Linked DNA regions of Homo sapiens: regions 1 and 3 are each linked to region 2. Evidence: fine-mapped expression QTL. A gene starts in region 2. Each other region holds a variant in brackets. All regions are shown on one strand. Distances are between the middles of the regions.

What was found. PIP is the estimated chance that this variant, and not a neighbour inherited with it, causes the effect.
Region 1: its variant is fine-mapped to the expression of GLB1L3 in testis (GTEx, PIP 0.94).
Region 3: its variant is fine-mapped to the expression of GLB1L3 in thyroid (GTEx, PIP above 0.99).

What each region holds. Positions count from the first base shown.
Region 1 is chr11:134,313,095-134,323,659 of GRCh38, forward strand. GLB1L3 (galactosidase beta 1 like 3) reads left to right here. Exons shown (of 20, transcript NM_001080407.3): 16 at 302-380; 17 at 847-934; 18 at 1,236-1,347; 19 at 5,537-5,653; 20 at 5,783-6,470. The coding sequence ends at 5,848. It also overlaps the pseudogene LOC100421417. Among named protein-coding and RNA genes, the nearest start is that of GLB1L2, 14 kb to the right of the region's middle. The variant T/C (reference allele first, on the strand shown) is at 5,554.
Region 2 is chr11:134,271,094-134,281,658 of GRCh38, forward strand. It overlaps GLB1L3 (galactosidase beta 1 like 3), which reads left to right and starts at 5,286. Exons shown (of 20, transcript NM_001080407.3): 1 at 5,286-5,670; 2 at 6,233-6,358; 3 at 6,607-6,819; 4 at 10,284-10,352. The coding sequence starts at 5,648. RefSeq lists enhancers at 1,749-2,304, 4,445-4,554, 4,615-4,744, 4,895-4,944 and a silencer at 5,395-5,464.
Region 3 is chr11:134,324,233-134,332,967 of GRCh38, forward strand. It overlaps GLB1L2 (galactosidase beta 1 like 2), which reads left to right and starts at 7,756. Exons shown (of 19, transcript NM_001370461.1): 1 at 7,756-7,915. The coding sequence starts at 7,830. It also overlaps a transcript of GLB1L3 not described here. RefSeq lists a silencer at 7,606-7,905. The variant T/TA (reference allele first, on the strand shown) is at 5,544.

The sequences.
Region 1 (10,565 bases), 42 kb after region 2:
AGGGGATTTCCTCACCAAGTCCTGAGCCTGTCCTCAGCCCCTGGTTGGGTTTCTGTGCCTTTTGGAGTTGGTTAAAGGTACAGCTGAGTCTCTCTGCCTTTCCTAGTAGGATCAGCAGAGGGGAAAGGGAAGATTGACTATAGGAACACAAGGCAGTCCTTAGGTGAAGGGAAGACTGCTGGGCCCTGGAGCCTCCTGTTCTCCCATGTGTCTCTCCATGTGGGACTCAGTGAAAAAACGGGTTGTCGGGTAGACGCCCTCCATGGCTGCGTGGTCTCCATGACCTGGCCTGTCCCAGCAGGACTGCCGATACCTGAGGATCCTGGTGGAGAATCAAGGACGAGTCAATTTTTCATGGCAAATACAGAATGAGCAGAAAGGTGGGCTCTGGCTGTGGCTTCTCCTCAGTTGCTCAGAACCGAAGACCCGGGCTATGCACTGGAGTCGGGGGCGGGAGAGGGTGGGGAAACCAGCCGCTCAGCAGTGGGCTACCCAGGCCCTGGGAGCAGAGATGCAAAATCGGCCCCTCGCCCTTGTCTTGCCTTCTCTGATCTCCAGGGCCAGAGGGTGGGGCCAGTGTGTTCGGTGCTGGCTTGTCCTCAAGCAGGGCCAGTCTCCTTTTGGGAATTTCAGGAAAAGTTCCAGTACTAAGTGGGGGAACTTTCTTGGTAGTGTGGAAACATACAGCTAGAACCCTTCAGTCACAGCAGGTCAGACAAATGTTTGCCCTCCTGGCTGTGCCCCTGTCCTAAGGCATGTACAAGTCTGCATTGCTTTGTCCCAGATGCTAGAGAATATCCAGTCCTGGCTCATATTCTCTTTCCTGCCTCCCATCTGCATCTGCAGGAATAACTGGATCTGTCAGCATCAATAACTCTTCCCTGGAGGGCTTTACCATCTATTCCCTGGAGATGAAAATGAGCTTCTTTGAGAGGTATGCTCCAGCTGGCCCCCAGTGCACACTTCAGTGATCGGGGAACTCAGAGATTTCAGATTCCTCATTGCAGATAAAGAGTCCAAGATAGAGACTGAGTGATGTACTCCAGGCTGTTGGGTACTTCGGCGTCAGAACTAGGGCCCTGGAACAAGTGTCCTGATTCTGATCTTAACGCATCTAGTCTACTCTATCTCATTGAAACAGAACCTTAGGCTCGGCCCACGCCACCTGGGGTGGGTACTGGGAACTGGGTTGGGAAGGGGACTTCTTCTCCCCCATGGCTTGGCCTTTCTTCCAGGCTCCGCTCTGCCACCTGGAAGCCTGTCCCAGACAGCCACCAGGGCCCGGCCTTCTACTGTGGGACCTTGAAGGCTGGCCCTTCTCCCAAGGACACCTTCCTGAGCCTGCTGGTAGGTGATGCCCTCTGCTGCCCTGGTGTTCCAAACACCAATTTTATTTTTAAAGAGTCCTGAAGCAAAGCCAGCGTTCCTGGAGGAATACTTCCCTTTCTTCTTTTCCTCTTCTTCCTCATCTCCAACCAAGCCTTCCAACATTGATCAGTCTTCCTAATTTATCACTGTTCAGAGAATAACACATCAAAGCACAATTAAAAATTCAAACAATAACAAGAGGGAGAGAGCAAAGCATGAAGTTCGCCTTTGAACCCACCCCCATTCCAATTAGTCTCTGCTTCTCAGAACTCAACACTGCCAACAGTGGTACATTTTTATATATAACTTTGCCTGAACACACACGTACACAATTATTTTTACACTAATAGAATTGTACTATGTATTCTGAAGCTTGCCTTTTTTTTCTGTGTGGGGTGAGTTGGTAAGTTAGTTTTTACTTAGAATATCTTTTTCTGTATAAATACACATAGATAACATAAATGTACAAAATGTGAATGTACAGATCAACAAATGATCACAAAGTGAACACCATATAATTATCACTGAAAGTTAAAAATATTGTTGGCACCCCTCCCAACTGCTGCCTTGACTTCTAACACCCTAGGCCAGTGTCTCCTATTTTGACTTTATGTAAATGGAATCATACAGGGCATCTTTTTTAAATATGTTTTCTTTTGTTCAACATTGTGAGGTTCAGCCATTTATCGATGTTGCAGTGATTTGTTCATTTTCACTGTTGTATTGGGTTCATTTAGTAAATACATTATAATAATTTATTTAACCATTTTACTTTTTCTGAACATTTGGATTATATCTAGGGCTTGTCTATGGTAAATAATTAAGACTTCGTTTGTGTTTATGTTCATAACTGAGATCTCTTTGTCAGGTTTTGGTGCCAATGTTTAGGGATCTCATAAAGGATTTAGGAAGGCGAATTTGTGTAAGACAAGTATCACTTCTTAAACATTTAATGGAGTTCATTAGTGAAGCCTTCTAGAGCTGGCATTTTCTTTTTGAAAAAGTGTGTGAGTGTGGATTCAATTATTGAAAGATTAAAGTACTATTCAGATTTTGTTTCTTTTAAAGTTAGCTTTGAGAAAATATATTTTTCTGGAAATTTTCCCATTTCATCTAAATTTTCAAATATATTGCCTTTAAAATATTCGTTTTTGATGTCTAGATCATTGGTAGTAACGTTCCCCTTGTCATTTGTTACAGGATATCGATGCACTCTTTTTTCTTGATAATTCTCACCAGAACACTATCAATTTTATTAATTGTTCAAAGTACAGTGTTTGGCTATGACTCTTACTGTGTTAAGTATTTATTTTCTGATTCTGTCATTATCTTTATTATTTTGTTTATTCAATTTCTTAGTTTAGGATTAATTTGCTTTATTTTTATAATGTCTTGACATAGATACTTAGATAATGGACTTTCAGTCTTTGTTCTTTTTAATTATATGAATTTAGGTTATTAATCATCATTTACGCGTGGATTTGGTTGCATCCTCTAAGTTTTAAAAAGATTTTTTGAGGTAAAATTACATAACATAAAATTAGTTCTGTTAAAGTGAACGATTAAGTAGTCTTTCATGCCTTCACAATGCTATGCAGCCTCTATCTCCAGTTCCAGCACATTTTCATTATCCTATAAACATTGGGCAATTACTTCTCCATTTTCCCCTTCTCCCACCGCCTGGCAACAGCAATCTTTTTATTATCTTTATGGATTTGCCTATATTGGAAATGACTCCCATACCTTTTTTTTTTTTACACGTAGAATAAGAATAAATTTATTGTATTTATTTTCATGACTGAAGAATTACATTCTTCAAAGCAAGAATTCAGAATGTACATAATTATAAGCCATATTTCATATCAGTGCATTATTTTTATATTATACTTTCTATTATATGGGTAATGGTTCATATTGAAATACAGAAAAAATAAGTTGTAAGACAAGCGATGTCTATATAGGAAGAGATGAATCATTTTAGTGTCTTATTAGTTGGATAATTGCTGCTTTAAGGTTGCCATGTTAGCCTAACAGTTTAATCATAACTATAAATTCTATCTAAAAAATAATAAAGGTTTCATAACAAACAGCTGATACTAAAGGTGAGCACTTCACCTGTAGGTGCTTCTCTGAAGGTGTCAAGTAGACTTCGGTATGTGCATTTTAGAATGTCTTAAAGATGATTTTGTAAGGAGCTGGCAGGCAAATTAAGCCCAACAAAAGAGAAGGTCTGCAAATTATCCTGCAGGTTAGGGCCAATCTTCTTGAGTCTGCTAGGAATTATAAAATACCTACTCTTGCTCTTTCACCTCTAAGTTTTAAGTTGGAATTTTACTTTTCCTTCATACGGCTGTGTGGATTGTTGAAGGTCACATGCTTCACAAGCACTTGCCCATAATGACAACTTCCATGTTTTGGGGGACATTGAGAAGCTTCCCTGGGTCCAGAACTTTGCTATAGTAGGGCTGTGCTTTCTTCTCATATTAAGGCAAATAGTGTAGACCGAAGGCGCCATTTGGCAGGTAGTATTCAACCTGAGGCACTGGATGTCCTGGAGGCAGTGTCCAGAAAGCTGCAGGCCACTCTGGGGGCCATGTTGTTGCCGGGGGGAAACTTGATGATCTTTACCAATCAGTTTATACTTTTTGTGGATTCTTGGTACTGTTTAAGTTCCTTTCTTTTCAAGTTGAAGGACTTCCTTTAGCACTTCTTGTAAAGCAGGTCTAGTGGCGATGAACTCCCTCAGTTTTTGTCTGGAAGTCTTTATCTCTTATTCATTTTTGAAAGACAGTTTTGCTGGATGTAGTATTCTTGGTTGCCAGTTGATTTTTCTTTTAGCATTTTAAATATATCGGTCCATTCCACGCTAGCCTGCAAGGTTTCTGCTGAAAAATCTGCTGATAGTCTTATACCCTACAAGTTTCTATCAATTTTATCATCATCATCAAAGAATTCAAATATTTTCCAACTTCCTTTGTCATTACTTGTTAGATTTATGGTTTATTTAGAAGTGCTTTTCTTAATTTCCAAGAATTTGGATATTTTAGGGTTATCTTTTTTATCAGTTTCTTTCTTAAATGCATTATAGTCTGAGAAGTTTATGTGAAGACTAGTTTAATACAGGATCAAGCTTGTAAATATTCTGAGGTATACTTGAAAGAATATGTGTATACTGTAGATGTTAGATCAATGTTCTATTATGTCAATTAGTTCAATTTTGTTAATCATCTTCTTTTAAATGTTTTATGTCTTTATTGATTGTTATTTGCTTTGCCTATTGACTATTGAAAGGTTGTATAAAAATTTCCCGCTATGGTTGTAAATTTATTTATTTCTCTTCTGTCAATTTCGCTGATATGTTTTGAATCTCTGCTTTTATCTTTCTTATGTATGTTGTATATACATTTTTGGTAAATTAAGAATTTTACCATCATGAAATGTCCCTCTTTATCTCTAATAATGCTTCTTGCCTTAAAGTATTATTTTTCTGAATATTAACAGAGCTATAGCAACTTCCTTTTGGTTAGGGTTTACATATCATTATCCATTGTTTTTCTTTTATTTTTCCAATGCCTTATGTTTTTGATGCTTCTCTTATATGTAGCATATAACTACTTTATTTGAAATCAAGACCAGCAACCTTTGCCCTTTAATTTGAAGCATTTCAGAGACTCCAATTTTATGTGCTAGACTGTTTTGTTATATCCCAGAATAAGCAGGTGCCTCTAGTGGAAAAACTGCCTAGATGTCTCCTTGTCTCTCCATTTTCTTCTTCTAGATCTTGATCCTGTAATTCTTCATTATATTGCAAGCAGATTTTTAAAAATGTGCAGCTTTTATATTAATAGCCACTGTCAGCAGTGGTGTTCATCACTATTACCTGATATTTATTTCTGGAAGTAGAAGATCTGCTTTTTAAAATATATAACATTATATATCACATAACAGGAACAATAGCAGCCTTACCATTAAAGGGTTGGTTCTATTTATGCTTTTCTCTTTCATTCCTAGACAGCAAGGTAGAAGTTCTATAACATATCCCACTCTAAACTCACCTTCATTTGAGTGCCATAAAGTATCTCAATCTTGCTCTCACTCTCCAAGTGCCTTAGGTTTTACCTTGCTAATGTGAACCAATTTCCAAATCTCAAGCCACCATTCCTTTCAGAACTGGAATTATGGATT[T/C]GTGTTCATCAATGGACGTAACCTTGGGCGATATTGGAATATTGGGCCTCAGAAAACACTGTACCTTCCTGGAGTTTGGCTTCATCCAGAAGACAATGAGGTATGTCACTCCAGTCTCTGCCTTGAGATCTCATAAACTTTCAGATCAAAATGTGAGTTGCAGTGTCTTTTTCAACCTGTACTAAATAGGCTTCACCTTTCCCACTGTCAACCTTTCTTTTCTTCTCAGGTCATCTTGTTTGAGAAGATGATGAGTGGCTCAGATATCAAATCTACAGACAAGCCCACGCTGTAAAACTGTGTCTGAACATTTTTTTTTTTTTTTGAGATGGAGTCTCACTTTGTCGCCCAGGCTGGAGTGCAGTGGCACAATCTCTGCTCACTGCAAGCTCAGCCTCTCGGGTTCACGCCATTCTCCTGCCTCAGCCTCCCCAGCAGCTGGGACTACAGGTGCACGCCACCACGCCTGGCTAATTTTTTGTATTTTTAGTAGAGATGGGGTTTCACCAAGTTAGCCAGGATGGTCCCAATCTCCTGACCTTGTGATCTGCTCTCCTCAGCCTCCCAAAGTACTGGGATTACAGGCGTGAGCCACCACTCCCGGCCGTGAACATATTTTTTGGGTTGCTGGAGTTCATCTATAAGTCATTTTTGAGGAATAAGATTTATGTTAAGACTATCAAACACAGTGTTGCCTACAATAGCAAAAATGTGAAAATAACAACAACAACAAAACAGCAGAGGAATTGTTATGTATTTTGTAGTCTATCTATATGATGCCTATTTTTAGGCTTTAAAAAGTCTTCAAAATCTTTAATGACTGATTTATCTAGTTAAATGCTTAATCCTTAGCAGGCTCTTATTCTTTAATTAAACGTGCCTTTGAGTAGATGTGAATAAAATAAAAACAAGTTTCATTTCTGCCTCCCATACTCAATTGAAGGGAAGGGAAAGGTCTGAAGCCTGGGGAAGAGTAAGGATACTGATTTCCTCATGCCAGAGAGAGTATTGCATGTACTAATGGGCAAACTCACGGTCTCCCTCCTCTCTCTCTCTCTCTCTCTCTCTCTCTGTGTATGTGTGTGTGTGTGTGTGTGTGTGCGCGCGCGCGTGCATGTGTGTGTGTGTATGTAGGAGTAGGGGAAAGGAGAGGGCAATGAACAATGTCTTTCATTTCCCTTCAACTATGTGTCTACAAGGTGACCCTGCATGTCACATCTAATCAGAGAAGGAACAGAAATTTGGTCATTTGCTTCAGACACGTGTGACAACAAAGCTAGCGCAGGGTTCTCTGTGTCTTCTTACTCCCTGTCTATCTGGCTATAGTCAAGGCTACTACTGATAGTGGGTAGGCATTAGTGAGATTAGCCACACACACATGAATATTCCAACCACTATGAAAAGCCAGTGGAGCCATTTGAAAAAAATGGCACCATTGGGAACCAAGCACTTTCTTATATACAAAACACAGCACTTGGCCTAAATTCAAACCAATGCACTATAAGCAAATCTTATCACCCTGTTAAATATAGTGCCTAGGGCTTTCAAGTAATTTAGTAAGTAATCTTGTGTCCAGAGGGAAGAGAACCCTCTGTTTGGATTGGAATGAAGATAAAGATGTCAGATTATCTTCTCTCCCACTAGTCTGAATGACTATTTCAATGGAGGAAACTTCTGTGAGATACCTCCACAATTCTACATAAAACTTTATTCTCTGGGGATCTAGCCTCAAACCTATGAACTCTATAGAAACTGCAATGTAAAGGAGGGAAGCAGAACTAATAATCATAATGATCTTGAGTACATATTATATTTCAGGTGTAACATCTGCAACATCTAAACTTAACAACAACCATGCAACATATCCATTTTACAGATGAGAAACCAAGGTTCAAAGAGGTATTTGAAATCATGTCTCTCTGATTGGCACCTCCTCTTTCGCTACTACCTTAGTTCCACACGTATGCCAGTCTTTTCCAAATATGAATGCAAAAATGCTATTCAGAAGATATAATGCTTTCAGTGCACTTAGAGAAAAAGAGCTCACAACTTAGAATTCTTTACCCAGCAAAACTATTTTACAAGAAAAACAAAAAAAAAAAACAAAATATAGAACTTTCTGACAAACAAAAACCAAGAGAGTTATCATCAAAAGATCCCCACTAAATGATGTTCTGTAGCGGCCTTTCTCAATGTCCCATAAGAGAATTAAACACTGCAGAAAGTGTCTTCAGTGACTAGTTTCTCATTATATCATCTGGATGCATATTAGAGACGTTAACTCATTACATACTGTGGATGTCTTGGGGCATTACATCTTCACGCTCTCAGGGAACCACAGTTGAGAAGAAATTTCTAAAAGATATGCCACGAGCAGATGGAAAGTCTGACTTTTAAGAAAGAACGTGGAATCCAAGAAGGATGCTGACATATGTGAGAGTGAATATGGACAAACGTTAACTCCATAGAAATAGAGCCAATGTCTAACTTGAGGTAGCATCAGCATAAAACTCTAAGACCAGGCAAAAACACTGTGTAAAGCGAGAGGGATGTGATGGCCAAAAAGTGATCTAAGATTTCTGTAATTCTCAGATATTAACTTTAGACTTTGTTGAATATTCCTAGTTAATAAACTAAGCTTAATGTTTAAAGAATATACATAGAGCTTTTAACTTTCTAAAAAAATTAGGAGGATAAATAGAGTAAGAAAAAACAAACAAACAAAATCCTCTAACCAATAAAAGACAAAAGATAGTAGAAGATAAAGAAGTAGAAAAATAAGTACAAGTATAAATCATGCTGCTATAAAGACACATGCACACGTATGTTTATTGTGGCACTATTCACAGTAGCAAAGACTTGGAACCAACCCAAATGTCTATCAATGATAGACTGGATTAAGAAAATATGGCACATATACTCCATGGAATACTATGCAGCCATAAAAAAGGAGGAGTTCATGTCCTTTGTAGGGACATGGATGAAGCTGGAAACCATCATTCTCAGCAAACTATCGCAAGGACAGAAAACCAGACCCTGCATGTTCTCACTCATAGGTGGGAATTGAACAATGAGAACACATGGACACAGGAAGGGGAACATCACACACTGGGGCCTGTCATGGGGTGGGGGGAGTTGGGAGGGATAGCATTAGGACATACACCTAATGTAAATGAGGAGTTAATGGGTGCCGCACACCAACATGGCACATGTATACATATGTAACAAACCTGCACGTTGTGCACATGTACCCTAGAACTTAAAGTATAATAAAAAAAAAAGTACAAGTAGAAACACATATTAAGACAGTAGAATAAATACAGATATATCAGCAACCATAGTAAATTTTATAAATGCGCTAAACTCTAAACGGTAAAAATTGTCAGACATTATTTAAAGAAAACTATAAATATTTGAGTTTTACAAGAGATACACCTTTAACATAAAGATGCAATGATCGAAAGTCCAAGGATAAAAAATATGCTATGCAAATTCTAACTGAAGGAACTATAGTAACTGTATTAACATCAGGCAAGTAGACTTAAAGACAGAAGGTGTTACTAGGTATAGAGGGTTACCCATAGTAATGGAAATTCAATTCCTGAGAAAGATATACTAATTTTGACTTGTTTTTGTCTGAAAATGTAGCTTCATAATATGTAAAGCAAACATTTCCAGATCTATATGTAGAAATAGAAAAATAAAAGTACCTTGTACTTGAGAAACGTTTGTTCTACTTAAAAAGTTGAGATACGATTCATATACCATAAAATTTTTCAAAATGAGTTGTAAACTCTTTTAAAGTCTACAATTCAGTAGTTTTTAGTAGGATATATTCACGAGATTGTACCAGCATCATCACCATCTGATCTAGAACATTTTCATCACTCCAGATAGCAGCCCTTAACCTGTCAGTAGTTACTCCTGATTCCCCTTTCCACCCAGCCCCTGGCAACTATGAATTTACTTTCTGTCTCTGTGGATTTGCCTATTCTGAACATTTTACGAAAGTGGAATCGAATATGTGACCCTTTGTGTTTGGCTTCTTTCATGTAGCTTAACGTTTTCAAGCTTCATGGATGCTGTAGCATGTATATTCTATCCTTTTTCATGGCTGAATAATGTTCCATTGTATGGATACATAGCATTTTGTTTATCCATTCATCAGTGGATGATTATTTGAGTTGTTTCCACTTTTTGGATATTATGAATAATGCTACTATGAATATTCATGCATAAGTTTTTGTGTGGTCGTATGTTTTCCATTCTCTTGGTTATATACCTGGAAGAGGAATTGCTGGGTCATACGGTAATTCTGTGTTTAACTTTTCCATAAAGCATTAAACTGTTTCCAAAGTGGCTGCAGCACTTTACAGTTCCCACCAACAAGGTATTAGGTTTCTAAGTTCGCCACATCCTCACCAACACTTGATTTTAAGCTCTCTTTTTGATTACAGCCATCCTAGTGAGTATGAAATGTTATCTCACTGTGGTTTTGATTTGCATTTCCCTAAAAACTTGTCCTCTTAAACATTGAATCCAAACATGTAACAATGAAGTCATGCAATTGGACTTTAAGATAACAAAAATTGGCTGGGCGCGGTGGCTTATGCCTGTAATCCCAGCACTTTGAAAGGCCAAGGTGAATGCATCACCTGAGGTCAGGCGTTTGTGACCAGCCTGGCCAACGTGGTGAAACCCCGTCTCTACTAAACACACACACATGCGTGCGCACACACACACACACGTACACACACACACACACACACACACACACAATTAGTCGGCCTGGTGGTGGGTGCATGTAATCCCAGCTACTTGGGAGGCTGAGGCAGGAGAATCGCTTGAACCCGGGAGGCGGAGCTTGCAGTGAGCCGAGATGGCACCACTGCACTCCAGCCTGGGCGACAGAGCGAGACCCCGTCTAAAAAAAAAAAAAGTAATCTCTTAAATTGTATGTGCATTTCAGCTTTCATTTCCACAGAAAGGTGGTAGTGTTTTTCATCAGGTGT
Region 2 (10,565 bases):
TCAGCAATGATCGCTTCTTGCAGCTACTGGCAAATCTCACACAGTAACAGAGAAGATATCCCATCAAAAGTCAACTCATGGCTGGGCGCAGTGGCTCACGCCTGTAATCCCAGCACTTCGGGAGGCTGAGGCAGATGGATCACCTGAGGTCAGGAGTTTGAGACCAGCCTGGCTAACATGGCAAAACCCTGTCTCTACTAAAAATACAAAAATTAGCAGGGCATGGTGGCGGGCGTCCGTAGTCCCAGCTACTCAGGAGGCGGAGGCAGGAGAATCACTTGAACCCAGGAGGTGGAGGTTGCAGTGAGCCGAGATCACGCCACTGCACTCTAGCCTGGGCAACAGAGCGAGACTCTGTCTCATACAAACAAACAAGCAAAAAAACCAAAAAACAAAACAAAAGCAGCACAGGGAGTGAAAAGGCAAACTCAGAGGCAACACACTGTGTAATCCATTTACGTGGCATTCTGGAATCAATGCCATTATAGAGTTTGAAAACAGGTTAGTGCTGCCAGGGCTTAGAGTTAGTGATGGGAGGAGGAATATCCACACACGGGTGGCATGGGAGCCCTGTGGTGTCCAGGCAGGTCTGCAGACCGGCTGCACAGGGGCAGCCCAGTATTGCCTCCCTCCCTGCCCACAGTTCCGAGCTTGCTTAGGGGAGAGCGCAGGTGATCAAGGATTTGAGTCAAGGCAAGGTGGGAGAACAGGGCAGTGGCGAGACAGGTGGTTGGGTCTGGGCTTCAGTGTTTAAGTAAGGGGTTCTGTGCCTGAGATTCAGGCCCCAAGGGCAGGGTTCAGGAAGCCCCTGTGCTCCATGGCATTCCTCAGGGAGAAGCCTGACCAGAGGCAAGACTTTCTGAGGCCCAAAGCTCTGAGAAAGTGATTGTGCCCCCTCCCCATCCCCACAAACAATATTGAACTGTAAAGGGGTCTGGTATGCCAAGGAGTTGGATTTTATTCTGTAGTAACTGATACCCACATACAAAAGAATAAAATTGGCCAGGCGTGGTAGCTTATCCTTGTAATCCCAGTACTTTGAGAGATTGAGGAGGCAGGTCACTTGAGCCCAGGAGTTGGAGACCAACCTGGGCAACACTGTGAGACCCCATCTCTACAAAAAATACAAAAATTAGCCTGGCATGATGGTGTGCACCTCTGGTCTCCCAAAGCGCTGGGATTACAGGTGTGAGCCACCACGCCCAGCCGAAAAAACAGAAGAATTTTTAAGCCTTCTAATATTTGGATATAGTTTTCCATGTTCCCATAGTTTATTTTATAGACCTGATGGTTTAGAAGCATTTCACTTTCCGCTTTGCTAGCCACGTGGTTATACTTTAATTTTAAGTGCATTTGTGTGCTTTTCCTGAAGCATTTTCACCTAGGCCATCTCACTTAGTTTGAACAAGAGCAGTGCTTCGCACGCGGCTGCTTGCTGAGCAGAGTCCAGCGAACCGAATTGGGCAATATGAGACTGAATCTTTCCATTCCAGGGCCTTCAGATCCCAGCTGTCAACAGCCTGCTGTGTGACGTCACTGAAAGCCTCTGTGCTCTAGTTTCCTCACTGATAAAGGAGGGATACTAATGGTACCCGCTTTCTGGTGCTGTGAGAGTTAAGAGACAATAGACAGAAATGTCAAACATGCAGAACTGTGCCTGGCACACGAGTGCTTGGTAAATGTCAGCTATTCATAACAGAGGAAAAAACCTGATGAAAATAAATCACTTTTGGATAAGGATTTTAATATTCTTACAGACACTCCCCATCCAGCTCTTAGCTCAATGGATCAGGTTATCTGCAAGGACAGCAGCCTCTTGCTGGGTGCCCCATGGAGACAGCGATCTTCCCTCCTCTCTTACCTTCTCAAGGGTGGCCCTTTTCCATCACCAAGGCTGCACTCATGCAGAGAGGAAGCCTTCCCCCCCGACCTGATCAGGCTGATTAACTTCAACTCCCAGGGGAGAAGACTCTTGAGAACACACTTTAACCTTGGGTTCTCACCTGGAGCTCCGCATGATTTTCCATTTCCTTAACTAATGAATGCATCTAGCAGACTCAGTCCATAAAAAAGGCACATTTGAATGATAACAGCCAGAGCCCGGTGGCCGAGCTGGGCTGCCGCCTGCTGAGCAGCTCCTTTAGAAAGGCCTGCACTTGAGCGTTAGTTACCCTGTGGAGGGACAGGAGGCCGGCTGCTTCACTTCCCTCTGCTGGGAGTGGCCCTGCGTGATGGGGTGCATATCCACTTCATTTATTTTTTAATCTGTGGGAGACAGGTTATCAATTTACTTAAAGTTTGAATGTCTGTAAGGATGAAATTTAAAGCTAGGGCTCTGAAGATCTCTAGCAGGGATGTATCTGTCATCTACCTATCCCTCCATCTCAGCCTGTGAACTGCGTGTCATCATGGGTTAAATTAATTACTAAGAGACCACGGAGTCCATTTTATAGCTCAAATGAGCATTTTTCATTTCCTGTAGTAAACATGACTTAAGTAAACAAAGAGTTTCTCTAACAAGGATGGCTTACAAGTAGAAGTGGCTAAATTTTCACTTTTATAAATTTTGCTGCTTTTTATTAACTATCAATAAACCTAGAAAGATGATCTTACAAGTAAACAACAGATTTTGCATACTTTAACCTTAAAGATATCTCTGCCTCAACTCTTTGTTCACAGCTCTCTGACACTGGAATATTAATAGTTGATAATCTTTCCCTTTAATTTTTCACTGATAATATTAGTTCCTAACCCAGGTTTTTGGATCTCACAAGGGTTCTTATTATACAGTTGTCACATACATTTCTTTAAGAAGTTCAACCTAAGAAGAAATCAAGAATTGTCTTTTCTGGTTCATACATTAACTCCTATAGGGTTGTCCACTACTAAAGCAACAGAAAGTGCTGCCTTCTTTTTCTGGAAGCTGCTGTTCTTACAAGAGAGCAATTTAGGAGCAGGAATTGTGCTTTATTAACATCAAAGCACTGGCACAGGAAGTTTGCACACTCAGCTCTGGGAGCTTTTTGATGCTTTCTGCCTGCTTTGGGAAATTAGCTCTTTGTTTCATTATCAGTTATCTGGATGGAAACTGAAGGGAAAAATATTGATTTTTTTTTTTTTTTTTAATAAATTGTACCAGGATGCTGGGTCTGCGGCCCTAGTGGCTGGTCTTTCCTGTGCTTGGGATGTTGGCCTTGTAGAGTTACTTCTGTAATCTCAAGACAGAAACTGACAGCTTTGTTTGATCAAAATTGTTACTTCACCTTGCACATTTTCAAGAGTTCTACAGGTTTAATGAGCACAGAAATCTGGGGGAACTTTCACTCTCCAGGGCTCCTTCATAGAGGTTCTCAAATACTCCATCAGCAGAGGGGAGCCCCAGATGGCAAAAGGACACAGGATATGTCATCTTTCAAATGAACCAATAATCCATTATTTGATTCTTCTACCTTTGTCAAAATTCCTCCAGCAACGCCTGCAGAAAATCACAATTCTTGATACATAGCTTGTTCCAATAAAGCACCACAGCATTTCTAGTGACTGCAGGCCCAGCTGTCAAACTCTTTCAACTTGATAGAGAATATGTACACAAAACCTATAGCTGTCATCATACTTAATAGTGAAAAACAGAATGTTTTCCAGCTGACACTGGGGACAAGGTAACAGTGTCAGTTCCTGCCGCTCTTATTCAACACAGAAATTTTAGTCATCATACTAAGACACACAAAAAAAGGAATAAAAAGCCACGCAGACTGGAAAGGTAGAAATAAAACTCTCCATATTTGCAGATGACATGATTATCTACATGGAAAATGCCAAGTAATACACAAATAACCTCTTAAAATTAATAGGTGAGTTTGCCAAGGTCACAGGATATGAGATCAACATGAGAAACACAATCACATTTCTGTATGCTAACAACAAACATGTAAAAACTGAAATAAAAATAATAACAGTTTAAATCTCTTGAGAGCAAAGGAAATATTTAAGTATAAACCTAACAAAACGTGATAGGATCTGATGTTGAAAAAATCACACAATTCTGATGAAAGAAGTGAAAAAAAAAAAACTATTTAAATAGACAGACATACCATGTTCGTGGGTTGGAAGATTCAACATAATAAGGATACAATTCTCAATTTGATCCATAGGTTGATTGCAATTCCTCTCGAAATACCAACATGGCTTTTTGTAGAAACAGACAAGTTTATTCTAAATTTTATGTGGGAAGGCACAAGCCCTAGAATACTTTAAACTTGACAAAGAAGAATAAAGTGTGTGGCTGTAAAACCAAACTGTAAAAAATTAACAGTTCATTGCTTGCAGTCGAAAAAATGAGGAAAAGATGGACGATCTAGGAAACTTTCAGGGAGCTAAGGTGTCGGAGAGCAAAGTATCCTTGTAAGGAATGAGACAAGATAAACTCCCTCCCCCACACACAGTATTTTCAGAGAACTACATTCTTGGTTTCAACCTGATGTCATAGGCTGTGTTCTTTGCAACGGAAGAAGCAAAGACTTCAAAGGGAGAAATCGGAAGATTTCTTTTTTCATCGTAGGGACTTCACATCAGCGTTTCCAAAACCGAGTCCATCGCCTTTTCCCTCTGCGCAGCCTCTATCCCTTCCTGTGTTTCGCATCTCAATAAACGTCCCCGCCAAGTGACTTCAGCCTGAAACATGCGGCCTCCCGGACTCCTCTCTGTGTCACCGACCTCTTGCGCTCAGTTCTCCGGAGCTGCCGGTTTAACCTCGCAAGTCTTCCCGGAACCCGTGCCCTCCTCCTGGGCAGCGTTACCACCACGAGCGCCTACCTGAGAGGACGCCTGTTCTCATCCAGCCTCCACCCTGCAGCCGAGCAATCTCCGTAAAACGAACACCTGGCTTAGTTTCTGCTGGAAACCGTTGAATAGTCCCCACTGTCTTCTGGAAGGGTCTGGGCAGCTCGGCGTGGCGTCCACGGCCCCACCAGGCCTCTGCCTCCTGCAGGTCCCGCTACTTCGTCACCAAAGCGCCCGCCGCGCTCGCATCTGCTGTGAGGCTGTGCTCGGGCCGCTCCCGCCGAGGGAACGGCCCTCCCAAGGCTCTGCGCCCCAATTCTCGCTCGTTTGCCAAGAGGTAGCCGTGTCGGGGAGCTAGAGTTCTCCGGGGACTCTCTCCTGCCCCTCGTGGCCCTCTGTGGAACCCTCGTTTTAGGATCTGCACGCCGTTTCCAGTCGCGCGCGCGGCACGGAGACCGCCCGCTGTGCCCCGCGCTGCGCTCTCTCCGCCCCTCTCCCGCGCAGGCCTCCCTGTGCCAGCCGGCTGTCGACCCAGGTTAGGAAGCCCGAGGTCGGGGCGTTACCCCAAGGGCCCTCCCGCTTCCCCTCCGAGGGCAGAGAGGCGTCCGCGCCCGGACGCACTGCGGGAACACCTGGAGCGCCGGCGGAGCTCGGCTGTCCCCGCGGGAGGGAGCCCGACGCGCATCCTTGGGACCCGGACCCGGCGCCCGCGCCTCGGGACGGATTTCTGCCTCGGCTGCAGGCGCAGCGCGCAGACCTGAGCCTGCCCCGCGGAACCGGGGCTCGAGTCCCGGCCCGAGCGCGGCGTCGGGGCCAGCGGAGAGGGGCGGAAGCCGCAAGGGACCCTCGGCGCCTCGGCCTGGCCGCGATGAAGTCCCCGCCCCTCCTCAGGTGACGGATCGCCGCTGCCGTCCCGGGCTGCCCACCACCCCGGCGCGTGCCCGGGAGCCTCCACCCTCCCCGGGTTCTGTGGCCGGCCACGCGCCCCAGGCACGCGCCGCGCCGGGCCGCGCCACCAAGCCCGCTGTCCCCAGCTTTCCTCGGCAGATCCCCTGGCTACCCCCACCCTGCGGAGGGGCCGTTCACCAGATGCCAGAAAATCAGGGTGGGGCACGCAGGCCAGGGGCTCCAGCGGCTGGGCACCGTGTCCTTCCCGAACCTGGTGCTGGAAGTGCGCCCGCCTCCGCCTCTCCCAGGCACCCACCGGCACTGCCCAGCCCTGTCTGGAGGGTCTAGGACTGAACGTCTGTCCCCGGCCTTCATCCTGGCTGCAGAGGACTGGCCGGGTGATGCCGCGCTGTCCTGGCCCTGGGCCCGCCTGGAAGACCCGCCTGTGTCGCGGGCCCCCTCCCTGGCTCTGGCCTCTAAAGCGCCCCCGGCACAGCTTCCCGGCCCTTGCAGCCCGGTGGGGCCGGAACCTTCCCCTTGTCACTGTTGTCCTTTCTCCTTTCAGCCCGTGTCTCTCCTGGAAGAGAATGGCGGGCATCTTTTTCCTGCCATTTATCTCATCAGGTTTTGCTCCTCGGTTTAAGCAGGAAGAGAACTTCATGCTTGGAAGAGCGCATCCGTCCCAGCCTAGGTTTGCTTGAGAGCTACATCCCTGGGGAGGGAGGGGAGCGATCTCTCCTTTCTTGGAGAAAATAGTATCGCGAATATGCACAGAACACGTCCTACTAACATATGCACAGAACACGTCCTACTAACATATGCACAGAACACGTCCTACTAACAAAAACTTCTTTTCGCTAGGGTTTCAGCCGTGCCTCCGAGCCCTCTCCCGAATCCTCTCTCCCTTTCCACTTTCTTTCCCTCGCCCGCCCCCTCCAGGTTTAATTGGTCTCATCTGACCCCTCTGGAGCTGAAGAATCGATCTGTGGGACTTGGAACTGAAAGCACAGGTCGGGGTAAGCCCCACTTCACACTGGAGGGCCACAAGTTCCTGATCTTCGGGGGCTCCATCCACTATTTCCGGGTGCCCAGGGAGTACTGGAGGGACCGCCTGCTGAAGCTGAAGGCCTGTGGCTTCAATACTGTCACCACGTGAGTGCCGGCCCCTCACCTCCAGGATCTCGTTACCCTACAAGTGCATCCTGGCCGGGAACCTGAGCCTCCGATTTTGGGGGCCCAGCGTGAGGACTTACCTTCCGCACAGTCGTTTCCAGCACATACATTTAATGCTTAAGCGTCCAGCTGTCACTTAGTCTCATGCTGAGTTTGCTCTGTGATCAAAGACTTGGATAGGGGTTAGTGGGAGAATCTCAAGGGAGGAGGTTATTTCCTCAGGATTCTGTCTGTCTAATGAAGGAACACCAGGCGCCCTTGGGAGCACTCAGTTTAATGACATAAGCTTAAGGCACACTTACAGATAAATATGTACTTACAGATACATGCATGTTTTTAAAACAAAAAAAAATTTTTTTTTTTGAGACACAGTTTGTTGTTCTGTTTGTTGCTCAGGCTGGAGTGCAGTGGCCCGATCTTAGCTCACGGCAGCTTCTACTTCTCTGGCTCAGGTGATCCTCCTGCCTCAGCCTCCTGAACAGCTGGGGCCACAGGTGCATGCCACCACACCAGGCTAATTTTTTGAATTGTTTGTAGAGATGGAGTTTCGCCATGTTGCCTGGGCTGGTCTCAAACTCCTGGACTCAAGCAGTTCACCCTTTAAAAGGGAACACCACGGTCGTCCTCATGCCTGTATACAACTGACCAGCCACCCTGTATGACCACAAAAAAGCAAAACTGCTCCAGAATCAGAGGCCCTGTCCTCCTGAGGGCCTGCCACCACCATTTTGTGGCAAGCTTACCATCACACTCACTGTAAAGGAGAAGATGCTTAGAGGGCCCTGTGCCTTATTGCAGAGCTGGTATTGAAGGGTGAATTTGAAGCTGAGAGGCAGTAAACTGGTTCATTTAAAATGCAAAGAATTTAATCAGAAATAATCGTTGAGTTTTATTGAGAGCTGCTACTGCATGTATTGGGGGGACAATATAGTTTTTCTTCACTGTTCTTTTGAATTGCTGAATTACAACGGCAATTTTTCTGATAGTCAAGCAGCCATGTGGTACTGGTATAAACTCTGCTTGGCTCTGAGATAGGCACACATTACATACACACAGATTGCTAGACTTTATTTGCTAGTGTTTTATTTCAAATGTGTTTATGATTATAAGCAAAACGGATTTAAAATTTTATTTTGTTAGTATTCTTGTCCAGTTTTGAATCAATCTTATAATAAGCTCATAAAGTGAGTAAATCTTCTTTTCTTACTTATTGGAAATATTTTGCACAAGAATTATCTTTACCCTGAAAGTTTCTTAAGATTCACCTGTAAACTCTGTGACTACTATCTTTTGTGGTTTGTGAGGTGAAGGGTTTGGGGACGACATAGCTCTTTGAATGGTTATTAACTCATGTCCTCTATTTCTTCTTGAATACATCCTGCTCTCCCCCTTTTTTTCTTTCCTTTCTTTTTTCTTTCTGTTTTCTTTTTCTTTTTTTTTTTTTTTTTTTTGAGATAGAGTCTTGCTCTGTTGCCCAGGCTGGAGTGCAGTGGCGCGATCTCTGCTCACTGCAACCTCCCCCTCCTGGGTTCAAGTGATTCTCCTGCCTCACCCTCCTGAGTAGCTGGGATTATGGCTCCCGCCACCACACCCGGCTAATTTTTGTATTTTTAGTAGAGATGGGGTTTCACCATATCGGTCAGGCTGGTCTCAAACTCCTGACCTCAGGTGATCCGCCTGCCTCGGCCTCCCAAAGTGCTGGGATTACAGATGTGAGCCACCTCGCCCAGCCTTCTTTCTTCTTTTGAACCCACTGGGACTTAAGAAATTTTTCCTTTCTTTCCTGTACTCACTTGGAAGTTATATACATCACGTTGTGTATTTTGGCTGTTTTTTTCTTTTTTCTTAATCTTATCTATTTAGTCTTTTCAGATAACTAGCTTGTAGCTTTGTTAGTACTCTCTGTATATTTCGGATCTGTATTTCACAGTTTCTGAGTTATGTGTAATTTCCTTTTCTCTACTTTATTAAATATAGTACCTTCTCTTCTCTGTCCTTCTCAGTTTCCTCCTCCTCCTTCTTCTTTTTCCCTGAGTTAAAATTTAGCTTCTTTTACTTCCAGTCTTTTGTGTTTTCTAATATATTCCTTCAAAGATATGAATGTTTCTCTGAGTGTTGCTTTGGTTATATAGCCCACAAATTTTGCTATATAGTGCTTTGAATGTCATTTATTTTCAAATATTTCCTAAGTTTTGATGTTGTTTCTATTAGCTATTTGGGAATACGCTTTCTGTTTTATTTATTTATTTATTTATTTAAATTTTACTATTTAACTGTGATTTTTAAATTTGTTTGCATTTATCTTGGGATCATGGACTATGTGATATAGGTTTTTGGAATTTGTTGAGATTTACTTCGTGACATAGTACATGCCAATATTTTACAACTGTTTCATGCATTTTAAATTTTGGTCTTTTAAATTTTACATTCTTTTTTCATACTTAGTTGTACAGATGCGCTTTTTAAGGGAATGTAGATGCTCCATCTGTTGGCTACTGGGTTCTCTATGTATTTATTACATGCCGACTTTTAATTACACAGTTCAAATCTGTATCCTTACAAGTTTCTTCTTTTTCTTTTTTTGCTGCTTATTTTCTTTGTTTCTTAGAGGGGTACTTTAAATCTTTTCACTGTGATGGTAACTGATGTATCCAGGTCCTCTCTAATTCAGTCAGCTTCTCCTTTACTTACGGCAAGCTATGTTGTAACTTACAACATACAACAAGCTACGTTGTTAAGCTCATAGAAGGCCATGATTAGTATGTCTTCTTGGTGGGCCATACAGTCAGTTCTACGATGTATTGTCAAAAATCTCTGCACTGCACAAAATTGTGTAATAAAAACCACAGGGCTTATAGGAAACATGATGTTAAGGGGCATAACACTCAAACATGTTGCCAGTGGCACAAAAAAACACAGTTGCCTAGTGAACTATGCCTGGTATACCTAATAAAATTTTTACTCATAGCCCTATGGGGGAGGGTCCCCTGGGGGCCCTTCTTGCTAAGGTCTAAAGGTAGTACCCTTACTAGATTTACTGTAACTCCACTATCTTCACAGAAACTCCTCATTTATTCTTATTTTGACTAACTCATAGCAAAAATTTATAAGGAAGATGTAGACATTTTTGTTTTTGTTCTCTTTTTTAATTTATACTTTTAATGAGTGTTACAATAGGGCAGTGAGTGGAAGAATTTATATATAAATCCCAAGAAACCCAGCATCATAGGATAATTGGCAGCTTGAACCACAATTGGATAATAGAGCAAGGAACTATTAAAGATGGTCATGGTTAGTGTAACAGAGGTTTAATTTCCACTGGTAACTTCAACTTATTTCAAAATAGAGCTATGCATGGTTTTGGCTTGGATTTGGGGCAGACCTAACAATTTGGAGGAAGAAATAAGAAGATACTCATCATACTTCCCTCTCACCTCTTCTAGCTATGTTCCGTGGAACCTGCATGAGCCAGAAAGAGGCAAATTTGACTTCTCTGGGAACCTGGACCTGGAGTATGTGGTGTTGCTGCTTCTGTGCCCTGGTCAGGGGCAGGGCACAGAGGTGGCTACTGGGGGTGGATTAGCAACCAAAGAGAACCAGGGAGGGACGTGGGTCTGGAGTCCTGTTCTAGGACTGTGAGAGGCCCTGCACCCAGGACCCAGACGCTCCCCAACCGTGACCTGTCACCCAGAGGGACTGGGCCTGCAGCCTCCGGGCCCCACCTC
Region 3 (8,735 bases), 52 kb after region 2:
GTTTCTGCATGCCCAAATATCTGATATACAAGACATGGATATTTTAATAATATCACTGATTGATACACAGTAAAATATAATTCAGGAAAACATATTTTAGTAGCATGTTTTGTAGAAGGAGCTTTGTACCTCGAAGTCATAACTTGGGCAGATTTAAACAATTCTTTGGCAGCCAAAAAACTACTAAAAATACCAGCATATAGCAATTATCCTGAGAAGCTTTTTATTTAGTCTCTGCAGACTCAAAGCTATAAGAAATTATCTTTTAAAAGTGTTATTATAAATCTGTCTTTTGAAGTTGGATTAGTGAGAACATAATGTGCCTAATTTTTGCCGACCACTATCGTTTTTTCTTTGTACCTTGTCTGTTCTTTGTTCTGTCTGAGCTGAAAATGATTTATCATAGATGTAGCTGCACATAATTTTGGAGATTTGCCTTCTCATGAAATTTGAGGTGGCAAGAATCCCCAAAGAAGACTTTTTCTTCAAAGATTCATGGCCTGAATGATATTAAATAATAACAATAAATTTGGTATAAACCACATTTTTATAAAAAACACATGCATGTTGTTTAGTGTAATAAATGGTACTCATCAAGCAATTCTAAAATGATAAAAATTGTGATATAACATAATCTTTATTGTGTTAATATATATTTATTACTTATACATTTAAATTTATAATTCATATGATATAAAATGTTTACATATTTTATACTACATTTTATATTTTAAAAACATATTTTCTATACATTGTTGGCTTAAAGAGGATATCATATTCTTCCCAAAGTTATAAAGTTATAAAGCTAATGTATGCTCTCCACATTCACATGAGCTGTCAATCTGTTTCCTTAGGTGCTTCAACATTTGAAAATTCTTAATAATTGTTTTTGGACATTAAATCAACAGTTTTTATAATAATCAGTAATTGCTTTATTTCACTTTAACCTGCTGATAACATTTTAATGTTTCACTTTATGTTACATCTCAAATGCATACTTGCATTTCAAAGTGAGTACAGTCGTCCTGCAGCATCCGTGGGGGACCAGTTCCACCATCTACTATGGATACCGAAATCCACAGGTGCTCAAGTCCCTGATATGAAATGAGGCAGTATTTGCATATAATCTATGCACGTTCACTTGTATCCTTTCAATCATCTTGAGATTATTTATAATACTTAATACAATGTAAATGCTATGTAAATAGGGTTATACTGTATTGTTCAGGGAATAATGACAGGAAAAAAGTTTGTACATGTTCAGTACACATGTGTTTTCTTTGTAGTTTTCTTCGTTTTAATTTAAAAATCTATGGGTACATAGTAGGTGTATATATTTATGGAGTGCATGAGGTATTTTGATACAGGTGTGCAATGTGTAATAATCACATCAAGGTAAATGGGGCGTCCATCACCTCAAGCATTTATCCTTTCTTTGTGTTACAAACCATCCAATTATACTCCCATGTAAACGGACTCTCTCTGTCACCCAGGCTGGAGTGCAGTGGCGCGATCTTGGCTCACTGCAACCTCCCAGGTTCAAGCAATTCTCCTGCCTCTGCCTCCTGAGTAGCTGGGATTACAGCCATGCTCCACCATGCCGGCTAATTTTTGTATTTTTAGTAGAGATGGGGTTTCACCATGTTGGTCAGACTGGTCTTGAACTCCTGACCTTGTGATCCACCCGCCTTGGCCTCCCAAAGTGCTGGGATTAGAGGCGTGAGCCACCGTGCCTGGCCTCCCACAGTTATTTTTAAATGTACGATAAGTTATTGTTGATTGTAGTTATCCTGTTACTACCTATTAGATACTAGATCTTATTCATTCTATCTAAATTCTATCTAAATTAGATACTAGATCTTATTCATTCTATCTAAATATATTTTTGTACCCATTAACTATCCCCAGTCCCTCCACTCTAGATGTGAATTTTTTACAAAAAAAATTTTTAATCCATGGTTGGTTGAATCCACAGATGCAGAACCCACAGATACAGAGGGGTAAGCGTGTTCTGATATTAACAACAAATTCCGGTGACACGCCTCACTCTCACATCTGGCAGGGTTACGACGTGGATTTGAAATTAACCTCAGTGATCACTCTGTTGTCAAGAGTTCAGTGAGGACTTAAACTATCTCATATGCTCCAACCTAAAGCTAATCCCTTCACTTGGTCACCTTGTCCCTACACTTTACCTCCTCAAGGGTTTCACAACAGAAATTCTCTACGGTCTGTCCTACCTCACCAGTTTTGTCTGCTGATCAAGATCACTATCAGCATACAAGCATGCTGTAGTAGAAATGAAAATAGAACACGGCTCTTGATTCAGTTCCCTCTTCTGCCCCAGTTACCATCCCATTTATGTATTCCCTTTCTTATTTATTTATTTATTTTTGAGATGGAGTTTTGCTCTTGTTGCCCAGGCTATAGTGCAGTAGTGTGATCTCAGCTCACTGCAACCTCTGCCTCCCTGGTTCAAGTGATTCTCCTGCCTCAGCCTCCTGAGTAGCTGGGATTACAGGCACCCACCACCACGCCCAGCTAAGTTTTGTATTTTTAGTAGAAATGGAGTTTCACCATATTGGCCAGGCTGGTCTCGAACTCCTGACCTCAGGTGATCCACCCGCCTCGGCCTCCTAAATTGCCGGGATTGAAGGCGTAAACTACCGCACCCAGCCTATGTGTCCCCTTTCTAGCCTATATTCTCAAAAGAGTCATCTACATTAATGGTCTTAGATTTCTCTTCACCCTTCCTTCCCGAACCCATTCCAGTTGGCTTCCCAAATCCCATGACCCCCAACTCCACCCAAGCTGCCTGTGTCCAGTTCACCAACGTTTACCACATACTAAATCCACGGGTCGATCCTCAGTGTTGCTTTAACCTCACCTGTTGGTGGCATGGTTCCTTGCCTTTTCTCAGTGTTAGGTGTGCCAGGGCTTGTCCCCATCCCCTTTCTCGGTCTGCACTTTGTTAATTGGTGCAGGTTCTTGCCTTTAAATACCAGCTCTCTGTCAACTCCTAAATTCGTATCTCCATCCCAAACCTCTTTCTGGACCATCAGGATTGATGTTCAGCAGCCTGCGTGGTGTCTCCACTCCACTCCACTCAATGCAGCAGGTCCAAGCTGAGCTACTGATGTCTCCCAGAAACTTGCCCATGACCTTCCCCATCTCAGGTCACAGCGACCAGCACTTCTTGTTTCTCAGGCCCAGCCTGTGGGAGACATTCTTAAGCCCCCTTTATTTCTCTCCCCCTACAAACAATCCACGAATTGCAACAACCCTCTCATGTCTGCTTTCCGAATACTCCCAAAAATTCAACACTTCTCACTACCTCCACCGCTGTCCCCTGAGCCAGCATCGTCTCCCATATGGATTACTGCATGGCACCAGTGATCCTTCTAAGTTATCATCACCGCCATGTTCAAACCATGCAGTGGCTCCCATTTCATTCAGAGTCAAAGCCCTGCTCTTAAAGGCCCTGCATGATCAGGCCCCTGTATCTCTCTGTCCTCATCTCCTGCCTTCTTGCCATCACCTCCCACGCTGTCCTCCTAGCCTTTCCTTGGACACCAGGGACACCAGGTCATGCTCCTTCCTGAGGGCCTTGGTACGAGCTGCTCTGTCTGCTTGGACAGTGCTTCCTCCAGGTTCTATCTTGGTTCGCTTGCATGGAGAACTCCCACTGTGTTCCGATCTTTGTTCAGCTAATGTCTTTCCGGGGAGACCGCCTCTCTGCAGACCCCTCCCCACCACATTCCCAGTCCTCCTTCCCTTATTACTTTTTTTTTTTTTTTTTTTTGAGATGGAGTCTCACTCTGTTGCCCGGGCTGGAGTGCAGTGGAATGATCTTGGCTCACTGCAACCTCCACTTTCAGGGTTCAAGCAATTTCTGGCTAATTTTTGTATTTTTAGTAGAGACGGGGTTTCACCATGTTGGCCAGACTGGTCTTGAACACCTGATCTCAAATGATCTGCCTGTCTCAGCCTCTCAAAGTGCTGGGATTACAGGCGTGAGTCACTGGGCCTGGCTCCCTTATTACTTCTTAAATTTTTGCAATGGAGTTTACTACCTTTGAATATACTCTACAGTTTACTTATTCATTCTGTTAAGTTTTATTGTCTTTCTTCCCTAGCTAGAACAGAAATTTCAAAGAGAAGAGATCTTTGTTCTGTCCACTGATACATCCCAAGCATGTGAAACAGTGTTCAGTATGTTGTTTATGGTCATTAAAATTTGTCATTTACTTTTTAATAAATACAATGCTGCAGAATTAGATCTTTGGCTATTAGGCCTTCAAAGGCTGAGCCTACAAAATGATAGTTAGGCTTGGTAAGGCCAAAGATCAAGTTCTGTGCATCCTTATCGGATGTGCACAGGCCCCTTCCAGTCCCACTCACATATCTTTGGGGCTGAAAAGCTTTGTCTACTTCCTTTATCTTAAATCTGCCTTCTCTTTTCTTTTTCCTAGGCCAAATCTCCATTCCAGGACTTTCTATTTTGTTTTGGCTAGGGTTGAAATGGCCCTCATTTATTCCCAGGAATTCTCCTGTGCTCTGAATTTCTTTGTTCAAGACCCCTGGCAACTTGACATCATAACTGGACTTTGCTTCTCCTGAGGGGAGGGTGGATGGGGGTTGCTGGACAGAGGTGTCTGTCCATAAGGAGGAGGTGGGGAGGAGAGGGTTATATCTTGGTCCAGGGGCCCAAGTGACTGTACTATCGTAGAAGCCACATTTTTCATCTTATTCTCATGACTAAAAGAAATTTTGCCAATGTTTTCCTAAAATTCAGATATCCTGTGTTTAAAGCATTAGCAGAGTGCCCTCAAAAATGAGTTACGTGAATGAATAACTGATCTGTAAACCTGTTACCTATTAAAAATAAAAAGTGAAACAGCAAATGAGACTAGTTTGACATGATCGCTTTTCCCACGTGACTTCACTGTACTGATTTTGAGCGAGTGTGGTTTTTATTCTCCTGTGTGTGCATTTTGTATGTGTTTCGGTTTCCCGCTGATTATCTGTGATACAGGAATTTTCAAGGAAGGAACTGTGCCCTCTGGGTCTGTTGGAGCTCTGACTTAGAGCAATGGAAATGGCACACCAACAAGATTTAACTTTTTTAAAAAGCATTTCTTGTATTTTCTAAACCCTGGACACTAGAAAGAAGGCCTGGGAAGAGGATGATTCCTGTGTACCAGGGATTCATTACCAAGCCAAGCACCTTGGCAGACCACTTTTTTACCCCACTCTTATGCCAGCTCATTGTAACTGTAGCTTTTGTTCCCAGGGATTTGAGTATTTTCACTGTCTGCTTTGGGTTAAGATCACTAAACATTTTGGAAAGGAGACACTGAAGGAGTATCTTGCTAATTTTTTTTTTTTTTTTTTTTTGAGACGGAGTCTCGCTCTGTCGCCCAAGCTGGAGTGCAGTGGCACGATCTCGGCTCACTGCAAGCTCTGCCTCCTGGGTTCACGCCATTCTCCTGCCTCAGCCTCTTGAGTAGCTGGGACTACAGGCGCCCGCCACTACGCCCGGC[T/TA]AATTTTTGTATTTTTAGTAGAGATGGGGTTTCACCGTGTTAGCCAGGATGGTCTCGATCTCCTGACCTCGTGATCTGCCCCCCTCGGCCTCCCAAAGTGCTGGGATTCAGGCTTGAGCCACCGCACCCGGCCTAATGTTTTAAAAAACAAAAGTCTCAGGCTGGAAATGGTGACTCACGCCTGTAATCCCAGCCCTTTGGGAGGCCGAGGCAGGTGGATCACCTGAGGTCAAGAGTTTGAGATCTGCCTGGGCAACATGGTGAAACCCCGTCTCTACTAAAAATACAAAAATTAGCCGGGGAAGGTGGTGGGTGCCTGCAGTCCCACCTATTCGGGAGACTGAGGCAGGAGAATAGCTTGCATCCCGGGAGGCATTGCAGTGAGCTGAGATTGCACCACTGCACTCCAGCCTGGGTAACAGAGTGAGACTCTGTCTCAAAAAAAAAAAAAAAAGTCTCAGCCTATGAGCAAGACGCATCTCGGGTTAGTGCTAACTTTGTAGCATTCTGTGGTATCATTAAGCCCAGATAAAGTAAAATTGTTCCTAGACTGTGAGCAGGGTGTGTCCCTAGTTCTGAACATCCCACAAGGTTAAGGGGAAATTTTTTTGAAAACACTCAGTTATGTATATTTTTCTCGCACAAATAAAAACGAAGGATACAAGGGTGGGCCAAGGAGTTCACGGTTTTCACAACCCATGTTAAGTTTTTGCTAACGTTTGAAGAAAAATGGAGATGCTTGTATTGCTTAAACCATTTGAGAATTCCCTTATATTTGATAGATTCTGCCACTGTTCAACGTGACCAGAAGTGAGAGGATGAATGTGGGGTGCATGTCTTTCGGATGGTCCCCTGCAGGCAAAGGGGCTAGCCTTTGACAATTTCTCCACACGCTTCGGGGCTAGCTGGTATATTCCAATTAAACCAACATGTTTCCATCACAGACTTCATAGCCATCAAGCAATCATAGCCTTACCCAATGGAGAAAAGGAGCGGGCTTGGAGCGCGTCCACGGGAGTGGGCCTCCCTCTGCGCGCCTCTGGGAATGTTTGCGGTGCTTAAGTCAGACCCGGATTGCTCCAAGCCCAGCTTATCCTCCCCAGTTCTGCCAGGGTTTTTTTCCTCTTGTTTGTTCGTTTGTTTTTGCCTCTCTTTGATTTAACTTTTGCTCCTTGACTAAATATGTGCTTAACGCTAGACAAAGGACACTTCATACCCAAGTCTGTGTCTTTGTTCCAAGATCTGCAATTTCATTTGGTTCCTGTCGGCTTTACAAGTTCAAAACTATGCCCCCGTTTAGGAAATGAATTCAAAGCATGCGGCAAGGGAGACATTCGACAAACCCGGATGCTCTGGAAAACGTTGCCCTTCCTCGAGTTTCTTTCAGTAAAATCTGAATTTTGTTCCCGGGAGGAGTTGGGTTTGTGATTGCTACAGTGTAAGTTGCACCGAAATACTACATCATGTTCTTTGGGACATACATTCTGTTTCAGAATAAGAATGATATTCTTCCTTTCCTAAAATGTGAGAGTTTTATATGGACCTTTTTAAAATAAAAAATTGGAAGCCCTTGGAGTCAAGGCCAGAGTAAGACTCGCAGAAACCAAAGACAGAAAATATTTGGAACCCCCCCTCCTCAGACATGAACCACACTGAAATGTGTCCAGATACAATTCTTCAAAATCCTGGCTTTTCACAGGATGATTTGTTATTGAAAAAGTTGTTTGCTTCAGAATCTGAATTGTTTTAAAAGATTCTGTTGGTTGCCCCTGCTTTGCGGACGCCTTTTGTACGTTCTTCCTGATGTAGCGCTGCGAGGGGCGACTTTACCTCGGCGTTTGACAGGTACGCAGCATTCCCGCACCCGCCTGCGCCTCGCGAGCAGAAAGACGGCGGACTCTGCACCGCTCCACGACACTGGGGACCCGCCCCGGCCAGACCCGTCCCCTACCGAGACCTTGTCCCCGCCCCGCCCCCGGCCGGGGCCCCGCCCCGCCAGCCCCGCCCCCGCCAGCCCCCTCTCCTACCGAGACCTCGTCCCCGCCCACCAGCCCCGCCCCGCCCCCCCCCCGACAGAGGCCCCGCCCCGGCCCCGGCCAGCCCCGCCCCCGCTTGCGCGAGGCCTAGGGCTGCAGGCGCGGAGCCGCGAGCCCCAGCCAATGAGCGCCGGCGGGCCGGTTGCCCAGGCGACCAGTGCGCGGCTCCGCCCCCCGCGGCGAGGCTCCCGCGCGCGGCTGAGTGCGGACTGGAGTGGGAACCCGGGTCCCCGCGCTTAGAGAACACGCGATGACCACGTGGAGCCTCCGGCGGAGGCCGGCCCGCACGCTGGGACTCCTGCTGCTGGTCGTCTTGGGCTTCCTGGTGCTCCGCAGGTGAGAGAGAGCTTCGCGCAGCACCTGCCGGACCCCACATTCCCCAGCCCTCCGCACCTCGGGTTCTCTCCTCCCGCGACCCGCGAATCCCGAGTTCCCGGGGGGAGCAGCCCCAGCTGCTTCTTTCTGGGAGCTCCCCAATACCCCCGAGTTCCCCTGCGGCTGCAGGCACTCTACTCCTGCCGCGCGATCCAGGCCTCTGGGCGACACCCGGCGTGCCCTCGGGAGCCGGCGTCTGTGCCCCGAGCCGCCCACCCCGCCGCGCCTGTGACGCCGGGCTCTGCCCCCCGTGGACGCCCGCAGCCCTCCAGCCGTCAGAGCCCTCTCAGACGCACCCCATCGCGGCCCCGTCCCCACTGCTCCGCGGAGAGCTCCCTCTGCCCTTCCCCCAGGCCCCCCTTTTCCTCCCAAGCCTCTGGGAGGCGCCTTATTCCGCAGAGGCCGGCGCTTCAGCCTGGCAGGTATGGTCTAGCCAGCTGGCCTGGCAGGGTCGTAAGAACAGTGTCCGTGGGCCTCCAAGATCCCGGGCCATGATTTATTTGCACAGTAGGACTGATAGGTCGTCTCTCTCCACTTTCCCACCATTCACCTGTTACCAGCTCACCCTTTCCTCTCCCCCTTTTCCAAATGTTGTTTATGGCAAAGGAGTGGCTTCAGTGATACTGTGATTTACCCACAGCCTGTGAAAAAGTTTTCTGGGTGCCCTAGCCCAGCATTTTTCTAAACTGTGCTTATTTTAAGGATTCTACAGCCCTGACCCTATCTTTCAGGTCAGCACTTTCCATATTCAAAACCTCCAGTGGGAAGCCGACCGGCAGTA